2 separate regions of the Homo sapiens genome follow, and region 2 is linked to region 1. Evidence: fine-mapped expression QTL. Tissue or cell type: tibial nerve. Region 1 holds a variant in brackets; the other region holds the start of a gene. All regions are shown on one strand. Distances are from middle to middle.

What was found. PIP is the estimated chance that this variant, and not a neighbour inherited with it, causes the effect.
Region 2: GRIN2B starts here. The variant in region 1 is fine-mapped to the expression of GRIN2B in tibial nerve (GTEx, PIP above 0.99).

The regions. Positions count from the first base shown.
Region 1 is chr12:14,112,093-14,114,770 of GRCh38, forward strand. No RefSeq gene overlaps it. Among named protein-coding and RNA genes, the nearest start is that of GRIN2B, 130 kb to the left of the region's middle. The variant T/G (reference allele first, on the strand shown) is at 1,118.
Region 2 is chr12:13,980,399-13,983,076 of GRCh38, forward strand. GRIN2B (glutamate ionotropic receptor NMDA type subunit 2B) reads right to left here and starts at 1,204. Exons shown (of 14, transcript NM_000834.5): 1 at 944-1,204.

The sequences.
Region 1 (2,678 bases):
AAAAAAGGGACTAGAACTGCCAGAGAAGAGGGCAGCACGGCATTCCTCCACTGAGTCTACACCCTTTATTGAGAAGGGTGCTGGCTGCAGAGGGCTGAATTAGGCAAACAAGCCACCACTGCTTTCGTGTCCCCTGCAGGAAGATGTAAGGGACAAGCGATAGACAGACAGCAAATTATCAAGAGAGGCTTGGAGAGAGAAGAGTGATATAAAGAAAACAAAAACGGGCTACACTCATGGTGTGTGCACTCAAGTGACATGGGGAGGGACTAACAGAGAGTAGGAAGTCAGATGACCTATCCGTGAATGTATCCATCTCAAGGAACAGACCAATAGGGTCTATGATATTATATAACATATAGTATATAACATATATACACATTATATATAAGTATACACATAAAATATATAATGTGTGTATATACATTGTATATATGTGCATGTGCATATGTATGTGTACATATATACATACATGTATACATGCATATATAATCTGCATATATTTATATGTAATATTGATACATAATATTTATATGTAAAGAGATAGGTAGCAAGCTGCATATATGAGTATGGAGCTCAGGAAAGATATCAGACTAAAGGTACACATATGGGAGTCATCAGCATATTGAGATTAAGCAATAGAACGCAACTAAACTACATATGATTACAGAAGGAGAGAATCCAAATAGAAGAGAATCAAGAGCCTAGAACCAAGCTTGTGGTCATTCCAGCTTTTACAGCTAAATTTGAGGACTAGTGAACTCCTGTGGTAAAGGGAAGGACAATAACCAGATGAGGAAATCCCAAGTCAAGGAGAAAAGCAGGCTTTTTCAGGCTACCAGCCGGGGCAGCCTTCCTCAAATGGATATTTGTTCATAAAGGTTACTAATAAATCAAGTTGGTGATGGCCACTATTAGACGTTCTCCTCAATATTTTTTAAGTCAATATGGGCCCCACTCTTAAGGAACTCTTTTAAATACAAATGCCAGAAATGTTTACACCAGCATTTATACTTCTATGGATCAACAATCCTATCAATGAAGGGGTTCTCCCTGCTTTAGAAAAGAGAAAGCACTTTTGCTTTGGAAAAAGAGAAGGCACTGTTCCCTTCCTGAA[T/G]GACTTGGCTCTAAAAATGCCCAAATATCAAAGGACCCTATTGTTCCACCCTGGCAAGTGTTGGGGTAAGGGAGATAGAGTGCTGGAGTGGGGTGGGGTGGGGGGAGTGAGGAAGAGGACAAATTAAAATGATGTTTCTTAGAAGTTCCATGAAATCAGAAATACGAGGAAGGTGAAAAACAATGAGTGGCCAGATTACTTCTACAAGTGGGGAGGGAGGGCAGTCTGAAAAGGCTGCTTTAAGAATATGAGTCTGACAATAAAATACTGGCAACCAGATCCAGCAGCACATCAAAAAGCTTATCCACCACAATCAAGTCAGCTTCATCCCTGGGACACACGACTGGTTCAACATACACAAATCAATAAACATAATCCATCACATAAACAGAACCAACGACAAAAACCACATGATTATCTCAATAGATGCAGAAAAGGCCTTCGACAAAATTCAACAGCCCTTCATGCTAAAAACTAAAAACATGCTAAAAACTCTCAATAAACTAGGTATTGATTGAACATATCTCAAAATAATACGAGCTATTATGACAAACCCACAGCCAATATCATACTGAATGGGCAAAAACTGGAAGCATTCCCTTTGAAAACCGGCACAAGACAAGGATGCCCTCTTTCACCACTCCTGTTCAACATAGTGTTGGAAGTTCCGGCTAGGGCAATCAGGCAAGAGAAAGAAATAAAGGGTATTCAATTACGAAATGAGGAACTCAAATTGTCTCTGTTTGCAGATGACATGATTGTAAATTTAGAAAACCCCATCAGCTCAGCCCAAAATCTCCGTAAGCTGATAAGCAACTTCAGCAAAGTCTCAGGATACAAAATCAATGTGCAAAAATCACAAGCATTCCTATACACCAATAATAGGCAAACAGAGAGCCAAATCATGAGTGAACTCCAATTCACAATTACTACAAAGAGAATAAAATAGCTAGGAATCCAACTTACAAGGGATGTGAAGGACCTCTTCAAGGAGAACTACAAAACACTGCTCAGCAAAATAAAAGAAGACACAAACAAATGGAAGAACATTCCATGCTCATGGATAGGAAGAATCAATATCATGAAAATGGCCATACTCCCCGAGGTAATTTATAGATTAAATACTATCCCCATCAAGCTACAAATGACTTTCTTCACCAAATTGGAAAAAACTACTTTAAAGTTCATATGGAACCAAAAGAGTCCGTATAGCCAAGACAATCCTAAGCAAAAAGAACAAAGCTGGAGGCATCATGCTACCTGACTTCAAACTATGCTACAAGGCTACAGTAATCAAAATAGCATTGCACTGGTACCAAAACAGCATTGCACTGGTACCAAAACAGAGATATAGACCAATGGAACAGAACAGAGGCCTCAGAAATAATACCACACATCTACAACCATCTGATCTTTGACAAATCTGAGAAAAACAAGCAATGGGGAAAGGATTCCCTATTTAATAAATGGTGTTGGGAAAACTGGCTAGTCGTATGTAGAAAGCTGAAACTGGATCCCTTCCATACACTGTATACAAAAATTAACTCAAGATGGATTAAAG
Region 2 (2,678 bases), 130 kb before region 1:
CCCCGGAGGGTGAGAAAAATGCATTCCGAAAAAGATATCAATTCGTTTTAAGGAAAGGGGGGAGGAAACCCCGCATTTCCCACAGAGTGCACACGAGAGGAATTGAAAACAGCTGGTACCGGTCTATAAATAATTCAGAAAAGGTCTGGCTATACCATTCCTGGGACAGGCACGGATGAGAGGTGGGAAAGCCAACCTGAATGGAAGAGGAGAGAGGGAGGGAGCGAGCGAAGGAGGGAAGTGGGAAGGAAGGAGGAAGGGGGGGAGAAGCGGCACCATACAGCAACACACACTCACACACACGCAGAAACACAATTCCCACTTAACTCGCCAGCGAGTGCGGCCCCCAGCCCCATCTGCATTGCTGCTGACTTGTCTCGCTCGCTCTCCCCATCGCCTCCAGCAGCAGCGCCGCCTCCCACCCCGGGCTTGTGCTGAATGGGTTCTGATTGTGCACGGGGTGCACACTGGGCATTTCTTGGAAGGGGCACACTGACGCGCGCACACACGCCCCCGACGCGCACGCGCCCCGCGCGCACTCACACTCACCCCCGCGCACACTCACCCCCGCGCACACTCACGCTGCCGCCGCGCTGAGGTGCAGCGCACGGGGCTTCACCTGCAACGTGTCGATTGGACGGATGGGCTCGGCGCGTGGGTCCGGCCCGGGGCGCCGCTGCCCTGCCCCTCTGCTAGGTGAAGGGATGAAACCCCCCAAAAGACCAGAGACAGCCCTACCCAGTCACAGCACCCCCTCCCCCACAAAAAAAAAAAACCTTTAAAAAAGCCACGTCCAAATTAGCAAGTGCCGGGTTCTGCTGGATTTCAGAGCTTTACCTCATGCCAGATTCGTTCACGATTTCACGGCTTCGACCCTTTATCTGCCTGACACCCCCAAACCCCTACATTCAAAGGAGAGACTCCAAAGCCCATCTTTACGTACCGGCTCCGAGCGCCTCCGCGGTTGCAGTCTGCGGAGAGGGGTGGCCGGTGGCTGGGAATGGAGGGTTTTCCTTTCCTGCAAAGCAGGATTAATGATCCGTCTCGGGGGTTTTGAAGTTCATGACTCTTCTTTGCAAGGCAAAAGGATATGCATTCGGACGCCAGCACTACTGGATGGTGGTGATCAAGAATCACCCTTGACGAGCACTCTCGATAGAGCGAAGCCCCGAGATTTCCTAGAGGTGAAGAAGCCGGAGGAAGTGGTTTTTGAAAGGGGGTGGGGGGAACCTTCCTTTCTCAAAAAGAGGTGGGGGGTGGAGAGGCAGGAGCCCAGATTCCAGTTGGTGAGGATCGGAGCCGGGGGAAGGGAAGCGGGCGGGGGCAGGCTGTGCAAGTCAACCGCGCGGCAGCCGGAGAGGGAGAGCAGGAGGGGAGGAGGGGAGCGTCAGAAAAATGGGTATTAATCACCGGGGACGGGGGGAGGCGCGGGGAACGCAGGTTGCCTGGTCTGGATTTGGGTCTCACACTCAAAAACGTGCCGCGCACACACACACAGACACACACACACCCCCTACCTCGCACACCCTGACTCCGGGGGGAGGAGAAACCCACGAAGCTGGGGAAGATACTGCTTCTGCTCCCAGGGGCGGGTGTGAGCGCGCGTGTCCTCTTTCTCCACACCCCCCACCCCACCCCACCCCCAAGCCCCTGCACCCCCTCACTCCTCTTGCTAAGACTCTGGCGGAGGCAGCTTCCCACGTCATGTGCTGGGGAAGTGGGGTGGTAAGGTGGATGGAAGGGGGACGGAAGGGGGAAGAAGCTTAGCCCGAGTCCGTGGCGCCTCCTCCCGGCCGCAGCGGGGAACAGCACCGACGGAGAGCGGCTGAGGGGCGAGGGGAGCTAGACAGTGCCCCCCGTGGGCGGCCCGCGGGCTGCGGAAAGCATCTCCAAGGCGGAGCTGTAGTTCGAAATTGAAGACCCTTGCTGTATTTTCCATAAATCAGCCTGTGCTTCCTACGAGCATTCTGTGTGTCGGACGCAGTCTGGGACCGGGTTCTTTCTTGCCTTCAAGGAGCTTAAGATCTATCTGAGCACACGAGGCTGACGCCTAACACAATAGAAAACAAAGCAAAGCAGGTGTCATTCGTGGCTAAATTGTATAGTATGGACCATACGCGTGCTTTTCTGGCTGCTAGTGAAGGCGGGAGGAGTTTGACATTTTTTATTAAAGTGGATCCTGTTATTTAAATGCCTTGAGAAGAGAAGATGGTGAGGCCCGTGAATAATCCCTAAAGGAAACTGGATTTCCTGGCATTTACAAACCCACCCTCTTTGAAAAGGCAAACATCCATTCATTTCTCTTCCTATTGAACTCTTTTATATTTTAATAGCCCTTATCACCACCTGTAGTATTGTTTACTTTTAACATTAATATTATTGTATATGCATCATTTTCATTCTCATCCATTGTCTTTTCAAATATCTAGAATACTACAGTGGTGGAACATTTTCATATTGGTTATATCATGGGCTTCTCACCAGCATTCCTGAGAAGCGGCCATACAAACGCACAGGAGAGAAGGCTGTGTGAGTGGATATACCTAGTGGCTTGGAACTTTAGTCTGTAGAAGCCATCAGATATGTTTTTGCTGTCCTGTAGACCAGACTACTCATACTTCTGAGCTACAGTAATTCTTCTGTTTCCTGGTTTTTCTCAGGCTTAATTTTTGAATCTA